Linked DNA regions of Homo sapiens. The protein of the gene in region 1 purifies or fractionates together with the protein of each later gene. This does not show direct contact. Each region holds a gene or a part of one and is shown in the gene's direction. Other genes may lie near its edges. The genes, in order: DEFA1, COL18A1, COCH, NXPH4, NID2, CACNA2D1 and ABHD17B.

The links.
Region 2: the proteins of DEFA1 (region 1) and COL18A1 purify together in Homo sapiens (affinity purification with mass spectrometry, with the first as the bait; 2 studies listed by BioGRID). This does not show direct contact.
Region 3: the proteins of DEFA1 (region 1) and COCH purify together in Homo sapiens (affinity purification with mass spectrometry, with the first as the bait; 2 studies listed by BioGRID). This does not show direct contact.
Region 4: the proteins of DEFA1 (region 1) and NXPH4 purify together in Homo sapiens (affinity purification with mass spectrometry, with the first as the bait; 2 studies listed by BioGRID). This does not show direct contact.
Region 5: the proteins of DEFA1 (region 1) and NID2 purify together in Homo sapiens (affinity purification with mass spectrometry, with the first as the bait; 2 studies listed by BioGRID). This does not show direct contact.
Region 6: the proteins of DEFA1 (region 1) and CACNA2D1 purify together in Homo sapiens (affinity purification with mass spectrometry, with the first as the bait; 2 studies listed by BioGRID). This does not show direct contact.
Region 7: the proteins of DEFA1 (region 1) and ABHD17B purify together in Homo sapiens (affinity purification with mass spectrometry, with the first as the bait; 2 studies listed by BioGRID). This does not show direct contact.

The regions. Positions count from the first base shown.
Region 1 is NC_000008.11:6,977,293-6,981,546, reverse strand, and holds DEFA1 (neutrophil defensin 1 preproprotein), read left to right. Parts: upstream 1-1,454; 5' UTR 1,455-1,534; intron 1,535-2,386; exon of another isoform or gene 2,387-2,421; coding exon of another isoform or gene 2,422-2,430; intron 2,431-2,900; coding exon of another isoform or gene 2,901-2,912; coding exon 2,913-3,087; exon of another isoform or gene 3,088-3,218; intron 3,219-3,667; coding exon 3,668-3,777; 3' UTR 3,778-3,898; downstream 3,899-4,254.
Region 2 is NC_000021.9:45,467,665-45,471,164, forward strand, and holds part of COL18A1 (collagen alpha-1(XVIII) chain isoform 4 preproprotein), read left to right. Parts: intron 1-577; coding exon 578-1,122; intron 1,123-3,500. UniProt on the Homo sapiens protein: Probably plays a major role in determining the retinal structure as well as in the closure of the neural tube.
Region 3 is NC_000014.9:30,873,360-30,877,358, forward strand, and holds the start of COCH (cochlin isoform b precursor), read left to right. Parts: upstream 1-1,199; 5' UTR 1,200-1,232; exon of another isoform or gene 1,233-1,556; 5' UTR 1,557-1,579; coding exon 1,580-1,613; intron 1,614-1,696; coding exon 1,697-1,744; coding exon of another isoform or gene 1,745-1,939; intron 1,940-2,819; exon of another isoform or gene 2,820-3,193; intron 3,194-3,999. UniProt on the Homo sapiens protein: Plays a role in the control of cell shape and motility in the trabecular meshwork.
Region 4 is NC_000012.12:57,215,539-57,219,593, forward strand, and holds the start of NXPH4 (neurexophilin-4 precursor), read left to right. Parts: upstream 1-1,255; 5' UTR 1,256-1,431; coding exon 1,432-1,488; intron 1,489-4,055. UniProt on the Homo sapiens protein: May be signaling molecules that resemble neuropeptides and that act by binding to alpha-neurexins and possibly other receptors.
Region 5 is NC_000014.9:52,041,560-52,045,059, reverse strand, and holds part of NID2 (nidogen-2 precursor), read left to right. Parts: intron 1-2,128; coding exon 2,129-2,278; intron 2,279-2,709; coding exon 2,710-2,955; intron 2,956-3,500.
Region 6 is NC_000007.14:81,945,944-81,948,360, reverse strand, and holds the end of CACNA2D1 (voltage-dependent calcium channel subunit alpha-2/delta-1 isoform 1 preproprotein), read left to right. Parts: 3' UTR 1-1,917; downstream 1,918-2,417. UniProt on the Homo sapiens protein: The alpha-2/delta subunit of voltage-dependent calcium channels regulates calcium current density and activation/inactivation kinetics of the calcium channel. Plays an important role in excitation-contraction coupling.
Region 7 is NC_000009.12:71,908,394-71,912,622, reverse strand, and holds the start of ABHD17B (alpha/beta hydrolase domain-containing protein 17B), read left to right. Parts: upstream 1-1,429; 5' UTR 1,430-1,989; intron 1,990-2,106; exon of another isoform or gene 2,107-4,229. Other genes in the region: uncharacterized protein C9orf85, read right to left, coding at 787-888. UniProt on the Homo sapiens protein: Hydrolyzes fatty acids from S-acylated cysteine residues in proteins. Has depalmitoylating activity towards DLG4/PSD95. Has depalmitoylating activity towards GAP43. Has depalmitoylating activity towards MAP6. Has depalmitoylating activity towards NRAS.

The DNA.
Region 1 (4,254 bases):
TCAGGCAAAGACCATATGGAAGTGCCATCACCAAACGTGGCCATGGGGGAGAAAGGCTCCAAGGAAAAGTGGGTGCCAGCCAACCCCATCATCAGTGTCAATATAGAAGCACTGGGAAGAAAGCCCTGAGTGACAAGATGTCAGTGTTCTCTATGATTGGCCTTGCTTGGTATCTTATGTACAAATGGCTTGTGGGGTAGCTGTTTAACCCAGGCCTGGCAGCCTAGAGGGCTGCTGGAACAGGACAGCCCTAGTCAGAATTTGTACCCCAGACTGGAAAACTGGGGAATTCCCTGTAAGCCCTGTTACAGGGGCTGCACCCCAGATACAACCTGACCTGTGTCCAAGGCGGGCAACTCAACCCTTAGATATTGAATGGGTCCCATGGCACCAATGCTTAAACACCAGCAGCCCTCACAACCACAGATCGTGTTTTAAGGATGAGGAGGTAGTTCTCTGGATGCACAGGCTTCAATCCAAATGGGCTCATGACGCCGCAGCACACACCCAGACTGCAGCCTGAAGAGTTGGAGCATTGCATTCACAGAAAGCATCCAGACATGATCATGGGCTCAGGGATACACCTGTTCTCCGATGTGTACCAGTGAAGGATGGAAACTCCTATGCCTCCCAGAAAGCACCACTCAAGCTTTTGCTGAATGCTTCTCTGAAGGCCCACAAGGCCTGAGAGGCTGTGCAACACCAGCAGTAAAGTGAATGCCCAGACTCCCACCTCCTTTCTTGGGTGGCCATCTGGAAAGGCCACTCCCACCCTGATGGCTAATGCCTCAGACCAGTTCTTGGCCCAGATGATCCTAGACAATTGTTTAAGCTTAAACTGTTCATTGGCCAAGCAAACAGGTGATAGTCACCTCTGGGGAACCACATGCCGCGTGTACATCCAGTACTCAGGAGAACCCAAAAATGTCTGTTCCACATAGCAACAGAAGCCCAGGTAGCACTCAGTCTCACCTGGGTGTTCTCCAACATCCCAGCTCAGCCAAATGGCTTTCATTAGTTTTTATGGTTAGACCCCAGGTCCTCGGGACACTGCTTTAGAAACACATTCCAAATCCTCCTCTGTGTGCAGGTGGCATTCCTATCCCAATCTCTTTGCAGGGCGTATACTGTGATACGCAGCCAGGCTGTCCCAGAGGCCTTAAATATTCCCTTGGTGCAGGTAGTTCAGCTTAGCCACAGCCAATGCATCACAGGGTCAACTGTGTTAGGAGCCATTGAGAATCCATAGTTGGTTGCTGCCTGGGCCTGGCCAGGGCTGACCAAGGTAGATGAGAGGTTCCTCTGTGGAGTTCTACTTTAACCTCACCTTCCCACCAAATTTCTCAACTGTCCTTGCCACCACAATTATTTAATGGACCCAACAGAAAGTAACCCCGGAAATTAGGACACCTCATCCCAAAAGACCTTTAAATAGGGGAAGTCCACTTGTGCACGGCTGCTCCTTGCTATAGAAGACCTGGGACAGAGGACTGCTGTCTGCCCTCTCTGGTCACCCTGCCTAGCTAGAGGATCTGTAAGTACTACAAAACTTAAACTTTACACTGAGTTTTCATTATTGAAGCTATGCCTCCAATCTGACCTCTGACTGTGGGGCCACCCCAGAGGGAACCAGCGGGCGAATCCCTGCTAGGAACGTCTGTCCGGACCTCTGGTGACTGCTGGGGACGATGGCTTCCAGCTAACTTAATAGAGAAACTCAAGCAGTTTCCTTCTAAACACACATGTCACATGTCCTGGTTGACATGTCCAGTAGAGACTATCACAGGTCTTTGGAACATTCTTTTGAGAGAAACCTATTTAGGTCCTTGGTCTGTTTTTCAATCAGGTTGTTTGATTTTTGCTATTGAGTTGTTGGAATTCCTTATGTATTCAGATATTTGCCCCTTCGGCCATGTAGGTTTTGCAAATATTTTCTCTCATTTTCTGGGTTATCTTTTCACTCGGTTGATTGTTTCCTTTGCTGTGCAGATGCTTTAGCGTTAAATGAAGCCACACTTGTCTATTTTCCCTTTTATTGCCTGTGCCTTTGGTGTCATAGCCAAGAAATCATTACCTACATCAATGTCAAAAGCTTTATCCTTCTATACACTTCTAGTAGTTTATGGTTTCAGTTGTTACATTTAGGTTTTCAATTCATTCTGAGTTGATGTTTCTACATGGTGTGAGATAAAGATTTAAATACATACATATATAAAATCATGAGGTAGTGTACACTATAAATATACAATTGTTAATTGTTACTCAAGTCTAAGTAGAGGTGGAAATAATAAACTTTCTTTTTTTTACTTAAACCACTCTGTGTCACTGAGCTGATTTCACCTTTAGCCTGATAAAATCATTGTCCTCTCCACCCTGATTCCTACAGGAGACTACTCACCCCATAACCTCAAAAACCTCTTCATGAGGATGGTAAGTCACCTGAATCCTGAAGTGAATTACTCGCTATTCCATTGGAACTCATATAGGACACCAGAATCTAGACCTCCAGAGAACAGCAGGACCCATCTTCAGAAAATAAGAAGCATTTGTTCCCTGAGCCTGTTGAATCAAAGTGCAATTTCTATTCTTTTTGGAATGTTAAAAAGTGAATCATAATATTTAAGCAGGTGAACCCACGAGTAACATAGCAGGGTCTTTCTTGTCATTATTAGCTCCAACCTAGCACAGACATTAAAGGTACAGATGTATACTAGCATGAAACTGGGAGAACAGGAGCATTCGAGCAACCTTGAGACCAATGGGCCTCTCTTATAAAATGCACACCTCCTCTCACTGAGATTGAGGAAGGTTTCTTGTCTCCGAGCCTTCTCCCAGTAGAGCTATAAATCCAGGCTGGCTCCTCCCTCCCCACACAGCTGCTCCTGCTCTCCCTCCTCCAGGTGACCCCAGCCATGAGGACCCTCGCCATCCTTGCTGCCATTCTCCTGGTGGCCCTGCAGGCCCAGGCTGAGCCACTCCAGGCAAGAGCTGATGAGGTTGCTGCAGCCCCGGAGCAGATTGCAGCGGACATCCCAGAAGTGGTTGTTTCCCTTGCATGGGACGAAAGCTTGGCTCCAAAGCATCCAGGTGAGAGAGGCAGGCATGCAGAGCTGCTAAGTCTAGAGGGAAGGACGGGAGAGAGGTTCCAGAGTTGGGTCTCAGCAGTCTATGTCACTGAGGTGGCTTCACTTAGAATCTCTGGGCATTGATTTTCTCATCTAGAAATTGAACAGAGAGCCAAATAAACATGAGAAACTTTATTTCTCCAAAGACTTGATTCCAAGAAACGTCTGTGAAATTCACTAAGTTTCAGATATGAAGAGACAGACTAGTTATTTCTGGATCTAAACAAGTAGACTTAGTTGTAAAGAGAACATTTTACTCTATCTACAGAAGAGCTTTTAAAAACTGCAGCCAAGCCTGAGGATATGTTCAGGTGTGTGTGTGATGGGGCAGGAATGCAAAAATGAGAGCAAAGGAGAATGAGTCTCAAATTCTGAGTGACAAGCACTGCTCTGCGTGTTTATTCCTATCGACTGAGGTTGTTCGTGCTAACGGCTGCAATGCAGCCAGCATCACCTGTCAGCTAGCATGTGACTTCCCCGAGATTCTTTTTCTTACCCACTGCTAACTCCATACTCAATTTCTCATGCTCTCCCTGTCCCAGGCTCAAGGAAAAACATGGCCTGCTATTGCAGAATACCAGCGTGCATTGCAGGAGAACGTCGCTATGGAACCTGCATCTACCAGGGAAGACTCTGGGCATTCTGCTGCTGAGCTTGCAGAAAAAGAAAAATGAGCTCAAAATTTGCTTTGAGAGCTACAGGGAATTGCTATTACTCCTGTACCTTCTGCTCAATTTCCTTTCCTCATCCCAAATAAATGCCTTGTTACAAGATTTCTGTGTTTCCACCTCTTTAATGTGTGATATGTGTCTGTGTCAAGACACTTGGGATACACGTACCAAAACGCAAAATCAAATTTTTGAACAATATAAAATTCCAAATTCTAGGAATTTCAAGCAGGAGTTTGGGCTTCAGATCCAAATTGAAAAGAAGGCCCATATGACACCACTGATTTCCCCACCCACTGCTCTGCCTTTTCACCCTGCCTCATTTTCTCTGGATCCACTCTCAAAGAGCTCGCGTGTGCTGGGCAAACAATCGGTGTCAGCTTACATTTCATGCAGTCACAAAATCATTACTTCTCCGGGAAAAAAAAACCATCCTCTGTGCTAAAGAATTGGAGTTTCAT
Region 2 (3,500 bases), on another chromosome or scaffold:
GGGTCAGCCTCCCTCCTTCCCTGTGGTGGAACTGTGGCTTCACAGTGGAGGCCAGGCTGGGGTGCCGGCCTGGGCTGCTCCAGCAGGGTCAGAGTGGGCGGGCAGGGCACAGGGCCGGGCGGGAAGGCTGCCAGCCCCAGCCCCTCACAGCTCCTTGCCCCAGCGGGGGTGCCGGCCAGTCCCTGGTCCCTTCTCCCCACTGGCTCTGCCCATCAATGCTCAAAGCATGGAAGGGGAAGCCTGTGGACACCATGTCTGCTGTGCCCATCCCTGCTCAAAGCATGGAAGGGGGCCTGTGGACACCATGTCCCGTGCAGACACCATGTCTCCTGCAGACACCATGTCCCCTGCACACAGGTTTCTGCATGGAGCCTGCCTGTCGTTTGGGAATGAGTGAACCAGGGTGGCCGTTGGGTGGCTGAGCCCAGGGGATCAGGGCAGGCTGCCAGGCACGTGGAGAGCCCTCCCAGACTCAGTTTCTCCTTTCTGCCCCTGCCTGGCTGCCTCTCCAGGCCGCGTCGGTGGCCCCTGGTTCCGTCCTGCACAGCCACCTCACCAGCTGTCTTTCTTTTTGCAGAGCGCATCAGCGAGGAGGTGGGGCTGCTGCAGCTCCTTGGGGACCCCCCGCCCCAGCAGGTCACCCAGACGGATGACCCCGACGTCGGGCTGGCCTACGTCTTTGGGCCAGATGCCAACAGTGGCCAAGTGGCCCGGTACCACTTCCCCAGCCTCTTCTTCCGTGACTTCTCACTGCTGTTCCACATCCGGCCAGCCACAGAGGGCCCAGGGGTGCTGTTCGCCATCACGGACTCGGCGCAGGCCATGGTCTTGCTGGGCGTGAAGCTCTCTGGGGTGCAGGACGGGCACCAGGACATCTCCCTGCTCTACACAGAACCAGGTGCAGGCCAGACCCACACAGCCGCCAGCTTCCGGCTCCCCGCCTTCGTCGGCCAGTGGACACACTTAGCCCTCAGTGTGGCAGGTGGCTTTGTGGCCCTCTACGTGGACTGTGAGGAGTTCCAGAGAATGCCGCTTGCTCGGTCCTCACGGGGCCTGGAGCTGGAGCCTGGCGCCGGGCTCTTCGTGGCTCAGGCGGGGGGAGCGGACCCTGACAAGTTCCAGGTAACCCCCACTGTGCCGTCGCTGGGGGACTGGAGCAGCTGGGATGGGGTGGGGTGGGGGTGGCCACTGGGACAGGGACGGAGCTGTGGCCGGAAGAGGAGAGCCCCCACCCCAGCTGTGGTCAGCCCGGGCCTCCAGCGCAGGCCTCCTGGGTTCTTGGCTGCTCAGCCCTGGCCTCCGGCGCAGGCCTCCCGGGTTCTTGGCCGGCCTGGCTGGGGTGGCATTCACTTTCTTGGCTCTCTGGCTCCTGCGCCCCCAGGAAGGGTAGCCCTGGGCTTCCATGGTTTCTCTGAGACCCCGAGGCCCAGCCCAGGAGGGCCCTCTTTGAACGACTTTGTAACTAGACATCCACCCCAGCCGTGACCCCGTGACCCAGAGACACCCCCAGGCCTGTGCCAAGCCCTGTGGTGAAGTGGGGCTCCCGGCCTCTGACCGGCCGGTCGGGTAAGTGGGGACCGAGTCCAGGCCCAGCCACACGCCTCGTGGCCCCATGCAGAATGAAAGCTGGGGTCCTTGTTGAAAACGATGAACGATCCAAAGCTGGCGGCAGCAGGGTGTTGATCCCAGCAGGGTTCTCCTGTGGTAGCTGCACACCCGCTGGGACCAGGGGCTCAGGGCGGCCCTGCAGGTCAGCACCTTTAACAAAGGGTGCAGCAACCCACGCCTGTGAGACTCCACTTTGGAGCACGTGGTGGGAGTCCCCCAGCGGTGAACGCACGTGGCCGCCTCCACCTGAGTCTCCGGGAAGTCCCTCCAGTGGGCCTTCATTTCTTGGGGTTGGGGGGGTGGACAGATCCCTAAACCCATGTGGGGTCTGTGTCCAAAGCCCCTGCATTTCTGGGAACCTTTGGCTGGGAACAGCCACGTGGGTGACCTCAGCTGGCACTGTCTCACAAGTCCCTGAATTCTAGCATTCAAGCTGGCCTGCAGCTGGACGCCCCTGCCCTGGCGGGCCGCAGGGGACAGAAGGTTAATTATTGCCCAGACAAGGGCTGTTTGTTTGAAGTTGTTCTAAGTCCTGGTGTCTGGGGGTTCTGAAAGCTGACTTTTCACCTTTGGCAGGAACTTTTAACCCTCAGAGCTCAGGAGCCGCTAGGACGTTGACACCAAACTGGGCCTCTTTGTTTTCCTCTTGATCACAAACATGATTACCGGGAAAGAAGTCAGAGTCACCCCCTCCAGTGAGAGGCAATTTGTTGTGTGAGTCCCCAGCCGTTTCTTGGTGGAATAAAGTGGCCCACAAGTGCCGTACATCTTTAACACTGTTAGGAAAAGCGGCTGAGTGCCGAGAGCTCGGTACGTGGGTGCACAGCTGTGCCCCGATGGTGCTAGGGAGAGCCGGGCCACCGCCCTGCGGTGAGGGCCTCCTCATCAGCGAAGTCCCGTGTGTAGGAAGAGGGGGTCTGGGTGTTTAATTTTGCATTTCTTGGACTGTGAAGATAGACTTTCATTTTGTCACTTGTTTATTGTCTGTTTGTATTTCTTCCTTTGTGACTGACCGGTTTATGTTCTTTGTGGTTTTCAATGGGCCCAACTCTCAGTGATTTATACAAACTCCTTATCTTTAAAAGAAACTTCTCTTTGGTTTTGCATGCTGCAGATTTTATTTCTACCATGTCATTTGCCTTTTTACCTTGTCTTTTTTTTTTTTTTTTTTTTTGACTATTGGGATTGGATGTGTGGTTTTTTTGTGGGTTTTTTTTTTGTTTTTTTTTTTTTAGATGGAATCTCGCTCTGTTGCTCAGGCTGGAGTGCAATGGGGTGATCTCGGCTCACTGCAACCTCTGCCTCCCAGGTTCATGCGATTCTTCTGCCTCAGCCTCCCAAGTAGCTGGGATTACAGGCACCTGCCACCATGCCTAGCTAATTTTTGTATTTTTAGTAGAGACGGGGTTTCACCATATTGGTCAGGCTGGTCTCGAACTCCCGACCTCAGGTGATCCACCCGCCTAAGCCTCTCAAAGTGCTGGGATTACAGGCGTGAGCCACTGCACCCAGCTGGGATTTGATGTGTTTATGTGGTTAAATCTGGCCTGGAGAAGACACCATGACTTACAACAGCCCAGTGAAACCTTGGAAGGTCAGAGAGCTGGAACAGGAGGGAGCTAGAGGGCCCTGGGTCTGGCCCTGGGCTGGGGCCCTGCTGGGCGTGGGTGGCGTGCAGCAGGCCGTGTGCTGCTGGGCGTGGGTGGCGCGCTACAGGCTTCGTGCTGCTGGGCCTGGGTGGCGTGCTACGGGCTTGTGCTGCTGGGTGTGGGTGGCGCGCTACGGGCCTTGTGCTGCTGGGCCTGGGTGGCGCGCTACGGGCCGTGTGCTGCTGGGCCTGGGTGGCGCACTACGGGCCTTGTGCTGCTGGGCGTGGGTGGCGTGCAGCAGGC
Region 3 (3,999 bases), on another chromosome or scaffold:
GCAGTGAAGGAAGCCGCACAATGTATAATCCCATCTATAAGAAACGACCACTAAGAAAAATCTATAGAGACAGGAAATAGGTTAGTGATTGCCTAGGACTAGGAGTGGGAGAAGAGACTGACTGACAATGGCGAGGAGATCATTTTGGGGAGGATGAACCTGTTCTGAAATTGGCTTGTGGTGATGGTTGTACAGCTCTGAAAATTTACTAAACATCATTGAACTGTACACTCAAAACGGATGGATTTTATGGCATGTAAATTGTAACTAAATAAGGCTATTTGAAAAAGTTTATATTGTACCAGAAAGGTTAGCGTCTGGGCCTGGGTCTGGTTCTTCCGCTGCCATGCAGGTCGCCTGTCACTAACACTCCTCAAGAATTCTGCTCCTTCTCCATTTCCATTTGTAAAACGTTAGCAGGATGGTGCGGGGAGAAGGAGAACACATTATCAAATCTGAGATTCTGTGCAGTCACAAGACACCAAGTCTGGGAATTTCGAAAGGCAATCAGGCATAAATTCTTCCTGAGGTGAGAAAGAAGCAAAGGTACCGGCTGCTGGGGTCAGGGCTGTCTCACACGCGTGGCTCTAGGCAGGAGCACAAATTGAACCACTGGGGAAAGTAGGACTCCAGCAGAAACGAAGGCGCAAGGCCGAATCCCTAAGGTCCAACGAGCTAGCAGTCAGTTGACAGGGTTTCTAACAAAAACGCGGCATGCGTTTACCAAACCTAGGGTGGTTTTATTTCAGAAGTAGGAACTCTTTCCACGAGAGCACCAAGTTGAGAAGTTCGGTTCTCAGGCCGCGTGGACCTGACAGCTCTCAGAAGCTCCAGGCCTCGCTGGGTGGGGCGGGTAGCGGCCGCCGCTGCCTCAGCAGCCCTGGTCCCGGCAGAGCAGGGCTGGCGAGGCCGCTGCTGCCGCCGTCGGGGCCGCCGGCCCTCCACACTCGTTGAGACGCCGGCACGGGGACCTTCGTGCCCCTCTAGGGACTGGCGCCGCGTCCAGGTGGCCGAGCCTGCGCTGCTGGAGGAGGCGCCTCCGCGCCGGCCTCACCCCGGGGCCGGCAGGGGGCGAAGGCGGAGCTGGAAGTCGCCGCCGGGCCCCGGGGGACCGGCTCCCGCGCTTCCTCCCGCGCCCCCCGCACAGTGCTCATGCGCACGGCCCAGCCTTTATAGCGGCCGCGGGGGCCTTGCCTTCCGCACTCGGGCGCAGCCGGGTGGATCTCGAGCAGGTGCGGAGCCCCGGGCGGCGGGCGCGGGTGCGAGGGATCCCTGACGCCTCTGTCCCTGTTTCTTTGTCGCTCCCAGCCTGTCTGTCGTCGTTTTGGCGCCCCCGCCTCCCCGCGGTGCGGGGTTGCACACCGATCCTGGGCTTCGCTCGATTTGCCGCCGAGGCGCCTCCCAGACCTAGAGGGGCGCTGGCCTGGAGCAGCGGGTCGTCTGTGTCCTCTCTCCTCTGCGCCGCGCCCGGGGATCCGAAGGGTGCGGGGCTCTGAGGAGGTGACGCGCGGGGCCTCCCGCACCCTGGCCTTGCCCGCATTCTCCCTCTCTCCCAGGTGTGAGCAGCCTATCAGTCACCATGTCCGCAGCCTGGATCCCGGCTCTCGGCCTCGGTGGGTGCGCGCCCCTCACGACCCCGGCCCCTTGCTCCGCTGGGTGGAGGCTGGAGCCAGCCCTCACGCTTCTCTCTTCGCAGGTGTGTGTCTGCTGCTGCTGCCGGGGCCCGCGGGCAGCGAGGGAGCCGGTGAGTGGGGGAGCTGGGGTGCGTCCAGGCGGTCGCAGGGGCTGAGCACCAGCGGGTACAAGCGGGACTCAGATCCAGCCCCTTGGGCTTCAGCCCTACCGCCTGAGGAGGAAGGCGCGAAGGTTGAGCCGCCGCGTGGCGCGCCCGCGTTAACCCCTGCAGCCGATCTGCTCCTGCTCACCTGTTTCTCCCATGGTAGGGGGCCCCTGGGGTCCAGTGGGGGGACGTTCTCCAAGAGCACTAGGAAGAAGGCCTCCTCCAGGCCCACCCACAGCCCCAGACCCCGGGCCCGCTGAGCGCCGGCAGCAGGAGGTCGAGGAAGGAGGACTCCTTGAGCCTCACCGAGGAGCGCACCAGTCCTGGGCTCTGCTGCGTTTGGGGGTGGAGGAGAAGCCGCCCAGACCCGACTTCAGGTTGCCGTAGCCGAGAGAGAGGGAGGCGAACGTCGCTGTCCCACCTTGTTTGACTCGCTAGCTATGTTTCTAGGTGTAACCCCTATAATCAGAAGCACTCGCGGTCTCACTCTACACGCTAGAGAGTTTAAAAAGTTTGTACCACGTGTAGAGGTCCGGGTATGGGTGTGTGGTTTGGTGTATTTTCCAGTGTAAAAGGCAACGCTTTCCTAAGAGCTACCGTTTGTTTTCCTTGAAAGTAGGAATGAGGGTTAAGTATCCCTCATGGCTGTATTTCTCCCGCTCTACTTAACAAAAGTCAGTGTTCGCAACTAAAGGCGGTCGGTCTTGGCACCGGATTCCGATGCCGCCCCCATCTCAGCGGAAAATGGGAGGAAGGATTAAGGCTGTTTGATGATAGGTATGAGGCTGTTTAGGGGTAAGGATTTTAACCTCTCAGCTCTCTAGACTGCTTCAGAGCTAAGAAATGGGCATTGCGCCTGCATCCTTCCTTCTCTTCCATGGAATGTAAGGTACCTGTCACCACAAAGGGCACAGAGGAGGGTGCTTGTCACAGGCAAGGTACTCAGTTGGACAGTATGGCCAGAAAGTATTCCTCTGCCTTGGAAAAAAAAGGTTTTTAAAATTAATATATGTTTTAAAAAGGTTTGGATAACTACAACTTCCCATGTTTGAAAAATAGCATTTAATAACATTAATCTCAATTTAGTATCGACAGTAAATTCACAAATTAACATGTTGTATTATGTTATCTTGTTACTTGTTGCCAAGAGCTTGTCTCTTCCTAGCATCATTTATAGTAAAAACTGATTCTTTGTTAGGTTGACAGTGTAAAACTTGAGAATATTAACAGTGCTTTCTAAAAATGCATCCGCTGCTTGATAAATCTCACTGGACAGATCTGGAGCAGAAATAATCAGGTTCAATTAAGATAAAAATGCTGTATTCTGAAGGGATTCACTTTTCTGTTTTCTGTCCTTCGGGAGTTGTAGAATGTTGTTTGGGCAAATTAACCCCACGGCTTTAATTTTCTCATCTATAAAATGAACAATCAAGTTAGATAACTTTCTGTGAATCTAAGCATCTTTTTGTTGGCTTCCTTAATGTGTGAGTTTAAGGATCTGCATTTGTAGGCTAACTAGGATAAATGGTCCTATGAAGGAAAGGATGGCTTTGATTTGTGCACATGTCTATGAAAATGTTCCACAAAGGCTCAATCCAGATTTACTATCTTTACCTCAAGCAACTGTGTACATAGCGTCATCAAAGTTGAGATTTAAAAATTTTTTTTTTTCTTCTGGAGACAAGATCTTATTCTGTAACCCAGGATGGAGTGCAGTGATGCAATCATAGCTCATTGCAAGCTTGAACTCCCGGGCTCAAGCAATCCTCCCACCTCAGCCTCTCCAGTGGCGGAGAGTACAGGCATGCACCACCACGTGTGGCCATTTAAAAAAAATTTTTTTTTTTTAGAAGAGATGAGGTCTTGCTATGTTGTCCAGACTGGTCTTGACCTCCTGGACTCAAGCAAATCCTCTTGTCTTGGCCTGCTAAAGTGCTGGGATTATAGGCATGAGTCACCACGCCCAGCCAAGATTTTTTATATTTCTATAATTAATATTAAATGACTTTTATTTTCTAGTTCAGATATAGTTCCAATTATGTATTTCCAACCTGGTTAAGAACTGAGAAGCCAGGCACAGTGGCACACCTGTAATCCCAGCTACTAGGGAGTTGGAGGTGGATCACTTGAGCTCGGGAATTTGAGCCTAGCTTGGGCAACTTGGCGAGTCCCCATTTCAAAAACAAAAACGAAATAAAAACCCAGAACTTTCACATTAG
Region 4 (4,055 bases), on another chromosome or scaffold:
ACACCTGTGTATGTCTCAGTGTGTGTGTCCACCTCTGTGGGTGTTTGCTCTCTGCCAAGACAAAGAGAGGGTGAGCGCACTGAGCAACTGTCTGGGTGTGCTCGTCTGGGTGCAGGTGTGCTCACCTCTGTTGCTGTGCTCCTCTGTGTGTTGGGGTGCCGCTAGGTGTGCGCCTGTCTCTGTATTTCGCTCTGTGTGCCCTGTCCCCGTGAAGGCATCTGCGTGCATCCCTGGGGTGGGCTCTCAAGGGATGTGTCTGTCTCTCAGTCTCTTTGCTTGTCCCTATCTCTGTCTAGGTGTTGGTCATACCACAACCTCAGCCACAGCCTCAGTGCATAGCAACAGCTGACAGCTGAAACCACCCGGGCAGGAGAGAGAGAGGCAGTGGGGAGGAGGGAACCGAGGAAGAAACAGAGAAGAGGATGGGGGCAGAGAGCTGGGGCTGGGGACAGAGACAAGGACAGAGATAGGGAATGGGGACAAGGATCTAGAAGAGCTGGTGGTGAAAGATGGGACGGCGGGAGGGGAGGAACAGAGACTGCACCAAGAGGCCAGGCAGGCGGCGCTGAGAGGGATTTCCTGCCCAGCCCCCATGCAGAGGCGCACTGGGCCTCGTGGGGGTCAGTGGTGGGGGCCAGGGGCAAAGGTGAACAGCCGGTCTAGCCGAGGGGTCCTGAGACCGCAGAGGTGCGGTGAGGCGGGGACGGGGCGGAGGGCGCCGTTTGTCAGCCCTATTGACAGACGTGATGGGGTTTCCGTCCGTGATCAATGATTCTCATCTCCGGGCCGAATGAGCCGCGGGGCGCCCATCCATCCCCGTCAGCATCGCGCGGCGGCAGCCGCCCGAGGCCCCGCCCGTCCCCACCTCGGCCCCTGCCCTGCGCCTGCCCCGACACACCTTGGCCCTGAACAGGGCAGAGGCCCGGGGCTTGGAGAGCGTCGTCCGGCTGGGCTCCGCGGCGCCCCCACTCCAGGTGCACGGGCCCGGAGCCCAGAGCCCCACGCCCTGCCCCGTTCCTCCTGGGCGCACAGACGCGGCCTCTCGGGGGACCAGTGCCTGAGCCCCTCGACCCCCTCCGCTTCGCACCTGGGCCAGGGGCGTGTCCGGGGCGTGCCGGTGTGAAAGTCACCTTCGGTGCCCCCAGCTGGGCGGGAGGGGGCGCGCGGGGCGCGGCCGGGATTGGAGCGCCGCGGAGCCCCGCCCCCCGCCCGCGGAGTCAGACCCAACTTTCTCCCCCGCCCGCGCCCCGCCCCCAGCGCCGGCTCCGCGCCTCGCGCCCAGTCCGCGGGCCGCGCCGCCGCTCCCGCCGCTCCCGCCGCTCCCGCCGCTCCCGCAGCCGCCCCGCCGCCCGCCCGGAGCCCCGCGTCCCTAGGCCTGGCTCCCGCCTGCCCGAGACCCGCCCAGCCTGCCCCGCTCAGCCGCCAGAGAAGATGCGGCTGCTCCCGGAATGGTTCCTCTTGCTCTTTGGCCCGTGGCTCCTTAGGAAGGTAAGAGTGGCAGGGCTGGGGCGCTAGCGCGGGCGCGGGGTTCCGGGACGCGAAGGTCCCAGTGTGCGAGGGGCTCCGTGCGCCCGCCCCGCCCCCAGCTCCGAGCGTCCCAACTTTGCGCGGCGCGGGGGAAGCGGACAGACAGACTGCCCGATTCAGGACGGGCACTCTCCTAGCGCAAGTTGGCTGAGGCTTGGAGAGGGTGCCGGGCGGAGGTCCCCCTTGCAGCCGACTTCAGGCGCGGCGGGGGAGGGGACGAAGCCCGACCCGCGAGTGCGCCAGACAGAGCGGGAGTGCGAGACAGACAGACAAGCCAGCAGGGTGTCAGCCTTGCCGTCTTTCCGCGCCAGTCTCGCTCGCCTGCCTCACTGTCTGTCTGTCCTTCCACCCCTCCACCCCCGCCTTCCCATTTCTCTTCTCTGCACTTGTCACCATGCCAGGTGGGCTCTGTGTCGGGAGCATCCATGGCCCGAGCACACACGCACACACGGACTCAGGCAGACACGGCTGAACTTGGCTACAGCCAGCCTCCCATCACATTTCCCACGGAGACACCATCTCCCCTGCACGACCTCACAGACACACCCCCCTCTCGTGCCCCACTGAAGGGGGAGGCTGTCTGGAAGGGGAGTCTCTCCTCCCATGCCCTCCCTGCCTCCAACCCCACTCCAAGGCCTCTTTCCCTGAGGCTCTCGGGCGAAGAGCCAGAGGCTAAGGGAGCTCAGACTTGATCTGCCTCCTTCCTGACTTGGAGGCTTCAACCTGCGAACATGCTGTGCTCATATGTGCTGGGTGGAGGGCGTGGGTCACCGTGTGCACCTGTGTGCATGTGTCCAGGGAAGCCAGGCTTGGTCCAGTACTGGGGCCGAGGGTACATGTGTATACTGGTGTGGTGTGTGGTGTTGGCTTTGCATGAGTGAGTGTCAGTGCCTGCCTCACAGTGCAGCCATCTGCCTATGCCCCTGGTGTGTGCCCGCAATGGGGGCCCAGGCCCCAGTCCCCCATTTTCCTTCTACCAGCCTCCCCTGCCTATGGCTTCCCTGTTTTCTGACCCCCAACTGTGACCTACCTAGTTTGGGGGCAGGCAGGTCATTCCCCAAACCCTCATTCTCTGTACCCTCAGCCCCTGTAGAGTCTAGAAGGGGTGTATTTCTTCCCCCAACACTTGGACCTCTGCCTGCTCAGCCAAATCACATTTGGCAAACCCCAGCAGGGCAGGGGCTGCCCCAGTGAAGCTAGCATTAGAGCTCCCTGGCCCTCCCAGCCCCACCTGGTGACCTTGAGGGGCTGCACGGTAGGCAGAGGAGCCCCTCCATGAAAACTGCTTCCACTAGCAGGAGCTTCTTAGGGACTTGCTGCCCAACTCTGTCCTTAGTGAACTGGAGGAGTGGGGGGGGTCTGTGCCCTACCACCCACCCACCCATGTGTGAAGGCCTGGGGTCAAGAGGTGGTAGGTATGGCATTCTCTTGCCCCTCCTTTCCACTTCCTCCCACCTCATCTCCACTCTCCCAGGCAAATAAACTCCCCTGTGGACAGATCTGGTTTAATTTCCTTTGCCCCCTGAGGGGGAATGAAACATCTGGTGGAGACTTGAGTGAGAGTGAGCGTGAGGATATGAGCAATGGGATCTATCTGAGTGTGTGTGTGTGAGCTGCAGCTGTGGGGCCTCCGTGTTGGAGTCAACAGGGAGAGTGGATCTGCTGGTTAGCCCAGCTTATGTGCATGTGAGAATGTGTTTACATGTGTACACACTGCGGGTGTGTGAATATGTATAACTGCACGGGGAGGTGTGGGTATATGAGTGTTTGTGTGTCCAAATACCTGTGTGTGCTTCTGTGCACTTGTGAGTGTGGCGTATGCACATGTATACCCCGGGGTTTCTGGTGCATCTGTGTGCTGGGGCCCATGTGTTGTCTGTATGAGTCTCTGGGGTTTGTGAGTGTGTTTCTGTGTGCTTGTGATTGTGAGTGCATTTGAGTGTGCTATGAGATTGTGAGCCTCAGGATGTGTTTATGTATCTGAGTGTGGCTTATGTGTGTGGGTGCTCAAGGGTGTCTTGGTGCCAGCACTGGGAGTGGGCAAAAGGTGAGGCTGATCCTGGGTAAGAGGTGGCTAGGGGACAGTTTACAGGGCAACTTTTTGGCAACCCTAACCATGAACGGCTGACACCTCTGCCTCTCCCGTCCTGCTTGCTCACCCTCCTCCAGGTTTCTCTCCCTTCCTCCTCACTCCAGGCTTCCCATTTCTCAGAGCCTGGGACTCCTGGCTTCCACTGCCTCTGGGGTTCTGGCCTCTCAGCCAGGGATTCTTGAGGATCTTTCTCATACAGTCTCTGACTCCTTTCCCTCTCTCTCTGTCTCCCCGACCCCTTGCCAAAGCAGCTGCCTACTGGGAGAAGCAGCAGGCGATCAATAGTCACTAATCACTAATCACTAATTACTAATTAGCTGGGGGAGGGCAGGGGCGGGGCCCTGTGGGACCTGCCAGCTCTATCCCGCCTCAGGAAAGGATTAGGTCTGATTCTCTTAGAGCTGGCTGGCCGAAGCCCCTCAGCCAGCTACCCCCT
Region 5 (3,500 bases), on another chromosome or scaffold:
AGAGTAGCAGTTAAGATTCTCCAGCTAGATGTCCTAGGTTCGGTTCCCACCTTTGCCACTCACTGCCTATGCGACTTCAGGTGCTTTAGTCTACTGTGCCTCAGCTTTATCTGCAAACGGGTTAAAAAATTGTCCCTGGCCAGAGTGGTGGCTCATACCTGTAATCCCAGCATTTTGGGAGGCCTAGGTGGGAAGATCACTTGAGCCCAGGAGTTCGAGACCGAGACCAACCTGGGCAACGCAGGGAGACCCCTCCCCCCAACCCACCCTACCAAAAAATAAAGTAGGCAGGTGTGATGCATGCTTGTGGCTGCGGCTACTCAAAAGGCTGAAATAGGAGGATCACTTGAGCCTGGGAAGTCGAGCTTTCAGTGAGCCGAGATGGCACCACTGCTCTCCAGCTTGGGTGACAGAGCAAAACCCTGTCTCAACAACAGCAACAAAAAAAAGTCCCTGCTACCTAGGGTTGTTGTGCAAATTAAGAGTTGTTGGCCGGGCGGGGTGGCTCACGCCTGTTATCCCAGCACTTTGGGAGGCCGAGGCAGGTGGATCACGAGGTCAGGAGATCAGGACCATCCTGGCTAACATGGTGAAACCCTGTCTCTACTAAAAAATACAAAAAATTAGTCAGGCGTGGTGGTGGGTGCCTGTAGTCCCAGCTACTCAGGAGGCTGAGGCAAGAGAATGGCGTGAACCTGGGAGGTGGAGCTTGCAGTGAGCTGTGATCGTGCCACTGCACTCCAGCCTGGGCGACAGAGCGAGACTCCGTTTCAAAAAAAAAAAAAAAAAAAAAGGTTGTTAAATGTAAAGCTTGTATATGTTAAGCGCGATTGAAGTGTTAACTTTGTTATATTTTTATTTGCTGATGGAGGTCTTTATCTTGGTGACATTGTACCTATAATGCTATGTCTCATTAGCTCCTTTACTTTCTGTTCTCCCTGGGAATACTGGGTAAAGATTGATCTTTGGATTTCTTCCTCCCCTCCTGTCTCCTCGTTTCCAGATAGACCTGGAACACAACTACCACTTGGTTTTTCCTAAGAGTAGGGTGGGTGTCCTCCTTCATGCCAGCATCCGTGTCTCACACTAGAATTCCATGCCATCCCTGCTCAACAGCATGCTCCTGGAGTCTCCAGCCAACTCCACCTCCTGGGGATGTGGAGGCAGAGGTGTGTGCAGCCGCTTGGCCTCCTGGTGGCCATGCTTGGGATTGGCATATTTCCTAGTGCCCCGGAGAAAGCACCCTCCTGTCCATCCACAACCCCCGCCACACCCTACCCCCTTGGCTATTTCCTTTATGAACTATGGCATTTGCTCCAGTTTCCCCATTTCTTTGCAGCACAGATGGCCCTCTTCTTTTAATGGGCAGAATAAGTAGGAAATGGAAGAAACAGCTGCCAGAGCACTGAATTTATCCTAGTCCTCCATAATTTCTTGGAAGATCTGCGAGTGGGGCCCAAGCTGTCTGCTACTGCGTGGAAATCATGCTTGTACCATACCCATCATAGTTAAACCCTGCCAAGGGCATAGGGCATTTTAATAGCTTGAATCCCTGTTGTTTTGCCCTCCTCTGTCCCCTTCTCCCCATGCCTTTTCTTTGAGGTAGGTGCGTGTGTTCTTTAAGACCCTTCCCTCAAAACAATCTTGGTAGCGAGACCAGCTATTATCTTTTTTAAGTTCAGTGTTCCCTAAAAGAAGGATGGTTAGACATAAGACATTTGTTAGCTTCTCTATTATGTCTTCCTCTCAGGATGTGTTTAGGTTGAACCATATAAAAGTGCTGATATTTAGCCCTTTTTGACCCACAAAAATAGTGGTTTCATGAAGTTCAACCTAACATGTACTTACTGGTTTGCTTTCATTTTACTGCACTCAAACCCACGGGTGCAGTCTCATCTTAGTTCACCAACTCTGCAATGGGACCCAGCCGGGAGCAGTAAGCAATTCTTCTTGCCAGCAGACAAAGCAGATTAATTCCCTTGGGTTGAATGTTATGCCGGTCTCTTAAACATCAAAAACTGTTTGTTATGATCTAAACTGCTTCTATGGAGCAGATGTTGTGTCCCCGATGCAGCAGTGACATTGGAATCATTTAGTCCTTTTAAGGCAAGTTTGTTTTATTTTTCAGTCTTCACGTATAATGCTGCCAACAAGGAAACCTGTGAACACAACCACAGACAATGCTCCCGGCATGCCTTCTGCACGGACTATGCCACTGGCTTCTGCTGCCACTGCCAATCCAAGTTTTATGGAAATGGGAAGCACTGTCTGCCTGAAGGTAATTGACTGGGGCCAGGAACTCCTGTGTGTCTATTCCTGCTGCTTACCTGTTTCCAGCTACCACTGTGAGCTCTGCTTTATGGACCAAACATCTCCACTACTTAAATCAGAGTGCTATCAACTTGCAGGTGCTCAATAAATGTGTGAGGAATGAACTGGTTTGGGCTGATTCCCAATTTGAGGATTATCCAGAAATGCTTCCTTCTGCCAGCTCATTAGAGCCAAAGTGTAGTGGAGTAGAAGGAGGAGGGGAGAAAACAGACTGGAGGCAGGACTGTTTCATAGATGGATAATTGGTTGGTTAGGAAATCATTAAAGTGACTTGCTAAAGAGTGAGTTTTGGAAGTTGTCAGTGGAATAATTATACCTGGGTACACCCATCTCTAGCCAGGATGACGTCCAAGCCTAACTGGATTTGCTGTCTTTTAGGGGCACCTCACCGAGTGAATGGGAAAGTGAGTGGCCACCTCCACGTGGGCCATACACCCGTGCACTTCACTGATGTGGACCTGCATGCGTATATCGTGGGCAATGATGGCAGAGCCTACACGGCCATCAGCCACATCCCACAGCCAGCAGCCCAGGCCCTCCTCCCCCTCACACCAATTGGAGGCCTGTTTGGCTGGCTCTTTGCTTTAGAAAAACCTGGCTCTGAGAACGGCTTCAGCCTCGCAGGTGAGTAGGGCCTCTGAGAAGGCCGGTAGTCAGCATTGCTTTGGCAGTGGTGCTCCTTGGGGCACTGTCTTTAGGCCTTTACGCAGTGACAGAGGAATCACTTGTTTAATGTACTAGAGCCACATGTGTGTAGTTTTCTGGCCACAGGTTGTTGGGAATGGTTTGACCTCACATCACTGATTTTTGAAAGGCAGTGATTTCGTCTAAATGTTCTCCCAGCTGTTCTGAGAAACAGGATGATTCCATTCAGAACATTTGTGTCCTCTTACCCCAATTTGTTGCAGCATATTTGTCAGGCTTTTTAAATTATGCACAGATCTGTCAAATGCAAAAATGGTACTTGGGGCACCTGGGGATGATTTTACTTCATGGGGAAGGGGTGCTCTTCTCCTCCCAGCTCCACAACCTATAATAGTATAGGCCGGTGCACCCCAGACTTGAACCTGCACACACATCACTTGGAGGTCTTGTCAAAATGTAAATTCTGGTTCAGCAGGCCTGGGGTGGGGTCCGTGATTTTGCTTTTCTACCAAGCTAGGAGGTGA
Region 6 (2,417 bases), on another chromosome or scaffold:
TCATAACTGGTATTGACATTTTAGAAAACACCAAAGTGATTTAAAATATATGTGGGGAAAAAAACTTCTCACTCTAGTAACAATGTTTTAATCATGTTGTTTGTTAAATATTTAAAAGTTATTGTTCAATTTTTGCTAGACTATCTTAAATCATGATAGTGTTGGGAAGGGGGTATCAAAATATAAAATTGTTAGTTTGTGTATATAAACAATGCACATTAAAACAATTGAATTGCTTCCAGCATACAACAAACTACCTTAAAATTATGTTCAAAATCTATTAAATATATTTTCATGGCTAATGTCGAGTATATGTTTTCATCAATTACATTGTTATTGTATTAATCGCGGTTAAACTTGGCATCTCTTGGCAGGATCCTATTTAATTTCTGTTGCCATCAAAATATATTTATATGCATGAGTTTTGCTATAAACCTTTATTTTCTGCTATAAAGTTATATATTATGACAACCATAAATGCAATTACAAATTGGGTAAGAACAAGCTGAATAAAAGTTGTTCCCATGACTAATATTAGTCTTCATGCTTTTAGCATATTTTTTAAGACAGTAACACTCATCCCATCAAATTATTACATTACATTTAGTATTTTTCTGAGTTACATTGACAAGAACTTAAATTATAGCCTGTTATTAATATTGATTTCCAACGACTGAACAGTACAACAGATCAATAAAAAAGTTTATACACTGCTTTAACTAATTTTTGTTATACTCATGTGGCTTAGTGTAGTTAGTCACTAAAACAGAGTTCAAGTGAGCTTGGCAATGGTGTTGAGTAACAAGAAAGAATTTTGCATTAATGATTTCTTTTTATTTTCCTCATTTAAACAACCAGCATTACTGCCAAACACCAACCGTGGTCCATATTTGTAACAGGTTTTTAACATGACATAGTTAGCAAGTTTGATTGAAGAGATTTTTAGGTCCTGGGCCTATAAGATTTTAGTATGATCTTTTTTCATGTTTCTAATGCTTGAGGTGTTACTGCTTAACTTGGGAAAAAAAAAAACAAAAAACAGTGTTCCTGCCATTTGTAAGTTTTCCTATAATATTCCTTTTATTAACTTTAAAACTGGACTTATCGGGTTCAAATAGGCAGTATCCCTTTTAAGTGACCTTTGCAACCCAAGTGTTACTTGCTTATTTGATGCTCTCTTGTATTTTAAATCTCATTTAAATCTTTGTCTGTGACCAACAAAGCTTAAGATTTTGTCTTCATTTAAAACTCTGAATCTATTCCATTGATCATGTTAGACGTTCAAATGTTTAATGGTATAGTCTGACCTAGTGAAACAAAATGGATGTTGTTACTTTTTTTAAAGAATAGAATGAAATAACTATTTCACTTGCCCAAAATTTTAAATATTTTTTCATCTAAACTTGTATTGTTTCCCATAGCAGAATGTCAATATTCACAGTACATTTCTGTAAAGAGCAAACCAATATAATGTTTTGAGTGTTGAAAAAAATTCCAGATTTTTGAAGAATTAGACAACTCTTCATCTACCTTATTTCTAGTTCACACAGTTATCTCAAATTCCACTGAAACTAATGGGATACTGTCTTGTGTAGATGCCAGTTGAGTTTATAATGTGACCTAGTAAAGCTGTCTTTTTTGTTGTGTTGTATGAGTGTCGGATCATGCTTTTAGGAATACTTTTATTAAAATGGTGTGCATTCATGCAAAAGGCCAACTGGCTTTTGTGAACAATAGATCTTTTCTCCCCTTTATTTTGTTCTCTTGACACTTTTGTGAAAATTACCTAGCCTGATAAAAACATTTTGTAAAAATTTGTATAATACTGTTATAAAATATTTATAATCCCAGAAAATGTTGTGTTAAATCTTGTGCAAAAACAGTATATTCAGAATAAAAGTTTATCATTTAAAGTCACCACGCGGTTTGGGTTTTCTGCTTTTTAAAAGATCCAGTTGGAAGAGACAGATGGCTCTGTCATAAATAATTTTAAGAGAGAATTCTGGATTGTGGAAATAAAAGTTGGGATTAAATAGTGCTTTTACAATTACAAACCTCAACTCACACAAATACAGTCAATCCTTGAACAACATATGTTTGAACCACATGGATATACTTATATGTGGATTTTTTTCAACCAAATGCAGATTGAAAATACAGTATTTGCAAGATGGAAAACCCACATATACCAGGTGCCTACTTTCTGTATACTCAGATTCTGCGGGGCCACTTTCCAGACTTGACTTGGGTATGCATTGATTTTGATACACGTGGGCATCCTGAAACTGATCCCCCCCACGCACAGAGGGATGACTGTCAATTCACTCGCGATGCCTTTACTTAAGTCTAACCTTCTAACATGCCTTCTCCATCAAGGCACTTAGGAATGTACTTCATCAGACTTTGGACTTCTTTTA
Region 7 (4,229 bases), on another chromosome or scaffold:
AGCGCCCGCCACCACGCCCGGCTAATTTTTGTATTTTTAGTACAGATGGAGTTTCGCCATGTTGACCAGGTCGTTCTCGAACTCCTGACCTCAGGTGATCCACCCGCTTCGGCCTCCCAAAGTGCTGGGATTACAGCACTTTGAGCCACGGCGCCCGGCCTGCAAATTAGTACTTATATACAACCCAAGTCCTCTGGCTATCTAGACAGTCTGAATTTTTTAGCAGGACTTTACAGAAGTCCTGCTAAAGATAAACAGCAAAACAAGTATTTTTACATTAACCAAATATTTTTATCTTCAAAACAATTGTTACAAAACAGAAATTTCACACAATACTAGTGAGGACAGCCTAAGACAGCTTAATCATTCACATTTCCTCTATGGGCTTGGGGTTTTTGGAAAAAAAAATCGTAGCTGCATAAACTTGGTGTAAAATTTGAAAAAGCCACTCATGCCACAATCCTCGTTTCCCTCTGCTAATGTGATCCAGATGGGAACGCTGAACGACGTAACTGCCCCATCTGCACCTTAGATTTCATTAGGGTCCTGTTCACTCTGTGCAATTAGTTAAGTGTGCTGACCATCAAATATTTACCAGGAGACAACATGTCCAGGTCAAAGAAAGGGCGTGAGAATAACATTTTAGAAAGAGTTGCACTGCAGCCAAGACTAACTCTGGGCTGCGGTCCACACTCGCCCCAGCCGACTCCTCTCATTTCCTCTCTCCCCTCTCCAGTGAGCCATTCCTTCCTGGAGTCAAAGACGGTGCAACAGGCAGGTTCCTACCTTGGTCTGCACACTTTTATCGAACTTGTCATTTTTGAAGCTAAACGTATTCTGGTGCTTCTGAGGTCTGGAACGAGCCACGTTGCCTTTCTGGGAGCTCATCGCCGAAATCAAAGCCACCCCTCGCCGGGAGCAGGCAAAAGGATGAGGGGAAAGAAAACCAACGAACTACTCCCAGGAATTGACGCTTCTGTCAATGACCCGGAAGAAACAAACGCAGCCTTTCCGCCCCGGCTCTGGGTCAGCCCACGTGACTCTTCTGGGAGGTCAAAGAGCATCGCTCTGCCCTCCCTGCTGTTAAGCCAAGCCACTCCACGCGGCGCAGCCTCGACCCCTCCGGCTCCGCGCAGCCTCTTTCTCAAACCCGGAGAACAAGTCCCACTTTCTTCGAAATGAGAATTCCCCCATTGGCCCGAATGTGTAGTCCATCAAATCAAAGGGGCGGGGAACCTTTGTTCCTATTGGTTCTTCTTTTCCGCAATCCCCGCCTCCTGCTGAGCGAGCTCAGCCTCTCCTTGAGCTCAGAGCGCCTCCCACCCTGCCGGGCGGCCTCTGATTGGTGGAAGTGAGGCAAGGCTGGGCTCCGTCTCTCCCCCCGCCCGCTAGTAGGCTGGAGCCGGGGTCAGCTTTGGCACCTTCCTCCAGTCAGTGGCCAACTCCTGGCTCAGTGGGGATTGTGCTCGTCCCCTCCGTTCCCCTCCAGTCTTCCTCCCGCTACCGGAACGAGCCTCGCGCTTGGCAGGCTGAGGAGGAGCAAAGAAAGCAGGATTAAAGAGAAGGAAGACCTGGCTAGGTCTGGGTGGCGTCTGCAGTGCCAGAAAGGGAGGCGGTGGCGGCGGCGGCTGCGACCACGGCCGCGCGGGACGTGAGGCCCGAGAGCAACCGACGGGCAGCGGCGGCCGCTCCAGCGCCCCGCACCGGGGCCGTTAGTCAGCAGAACGCGAGCTCTTGTGGAGGAGCAGGGCCGGCGCGAGGCGAGACTCGGGAGCGTGAGCGGGGCCCCTGGGGCGCCGCCGTCCTTCTTCGCCCCGGCGCCGGGGGCTGTAGCCCTGGTCCCCGCTCCTCTGTCGGGCCAGTCTGCAGGCGGAGAGAGTCGGACGGCGCCCGGAGCGCGGATCTCGCCTTGTGGAGGACAGCGCGTCGGCTGCGGTTCTCTCTCGACCCCTTCTGCCCGGCGCTTCGGCCCGGGCCGCTCAGGTGCAGGTGCGTGCGGCCTCGGGGTTTGGGGACGCCGCAGCCCGGCTCGGGGAGGGGGCGCTAGGCCGGGAGCCGCAGCGCGGGAGGGACGAGCCCGGGCCGGCGGGGGGAGGGGAGCGGGAAGCGTCTTTGTTGTTGGCGACCGGGATCCCTTCTCGGCACAGGGGAAAGGCGGGGAAGCCACTCCTCATCGGGTCTGTGTTTTTGAGAGGATTCTCTGATGGTTGCGTGAAGGGGAGCGGTAGGACAGTCCCTGCGGTCCGTGGAGCGGCCGGAGTCAGGGGGTGGGGGAGGGAGGACCGACCGACACTCTAAGAAGGTCTTTGGTCCTCCTCGGTGAAGAGAAGGGTTCCATTTCATTTCCTTTGCTTTTCTCTCAGTGGATGAAAAGATGGGGTCAGGTTCCCATTCCCCTCACTGGCGCACTGAGAGATTCGCGGGTGCCTAAAAGCTTTCTCCTGAATGTCCTTATATCTCTGTCGGGCGCGATTTTAGATTGAATCTGCACGGGGCTTGGCGATTTGTGTATTCCGGTGGGGCTGTCGTAGGGTTCTTTTTCTTTAGATGGTTGGGCTTTAATCTTATTTGTTTTCGAACTCTAAGGTAGGCTTATCAGGAATCGTTTTTGAATTGGAAAATTTAAAGGTTTTGTTTGGGATTTTTTTTAACCCCGAAACAAAGTTATGTCAAATTAGATTGTACTGTGTGGGGGCTCTCGTGAAGGAAAGAGTGTATTTAACCTGGGGTTTTTGTTTAAAAAAAAAAAAAGTTCAGATCTTTGATCTTTGGTGAGATCTCTGCCAATGCCAGAAGAGAATTTTTTGTAAATGATGCTTTAAGTCAGTGTGAAGTAGATTTGGTAAGCAAAAGGATGAATAACGGAATACAGAGGGTGACCTTTAAATTTCGCTGTTTATGAAATGTGTTCCTGTTTAATACTTTTTGTGATATATGATGCTTGATCTATAGATGATTCATTTGGAATTTTTTTATGCCTCTAATAAATCTTTGGAGATCTTGTGCCAACATATGAAACTATAATACCTAATGAGTCGGAGTAGAAAGCCAGATACATGTTGTAATAACGTTAATCTGTTTAGATTAACAGGGAAATTTACATTAAAATGAACTTTTTTCCGTAAAGAGTTTCTCTACATATGTTTATAGCATGAATTTCAGTTGGGTGACATCTAATGATAGCCAGTATTTTGAAAATTGTCATGATTGCTAGTATTCTAATTTGAGACTGCTCAACTTGTTGGTAAGTTTTTATTTGGAGAATAGGGGTCGTGTTACTTAAGGAACAGCAGAGGTAAAAATCTCTGTTGTGCAGTAATTGTCATATCATTTGAAATCCAGAAGGAAATGAATGGCACCTTCACCTATATTTTGACCTCTCTTTTCTCCTACTCTAGTGTTAATAAGGTTAATTGGCAAGGACAGGATTAGATTTTTAGCAGGCTAGGCAGTTTTAATTTTGTCCCTTAGTGTGCAGTATTCTAGTTGATGAGTAGCTTGTTTCCTTGAGTATCTTTGCCCATTTTGAAATGTTTATGAAATGACTGCTGACAAAGAATTTTCTGTTTCCTGGGACAAACAAAATCACCAAAAAACATCATGAAAAAATAATGTTTTTAGTAGCTTAATGAACACAGAAGAATTAAGCAATTAGTGTCTGTTCCAAGTTTGACACTGAATTGGTCTACAACTCCAGGCACGCTATCCCACATCTGAGTCAGTTTTCTCCATCTGTAATATAGGGCTGATAAAATGTGCCACCTGCTCACTTTATAAAAAGGGGAGTGAGAACCATGTAAGCAACAGTTACTCTGGTTATGTGACATTGATATAAGTTAAATGAGAATACTTTTTAATGCAGTGCTCTTACTTTGTTTTGATATTATGAATTTCAATCATTTGATGAACAGTTAGCATAAAGATAAGGAGAATGACTCTCCCTATGCCATCATTTAAGAATTAAAATTTCTTCCGTATTAAGATTGGTGTTAAGATCTTTAGAAGCAGTGATGACAAGAAAATAGAGTATATTTTATTGGTTGGTTTATTTACTGGTAGATTTTACTTCTGATTTATCCAAAGTTTTGCTCTTAATTCTGAAAATTCCCCCTACCCTTCCTACTCTTTAAAATTTCTCACATACATTGCCCCATTTGCCTGTCGAATCCAGCCTTGTGAGTTGGAGAGAGGGAAGGTGAGTTTGTGGCCTTTTTTTTTTTTTTTTTTTT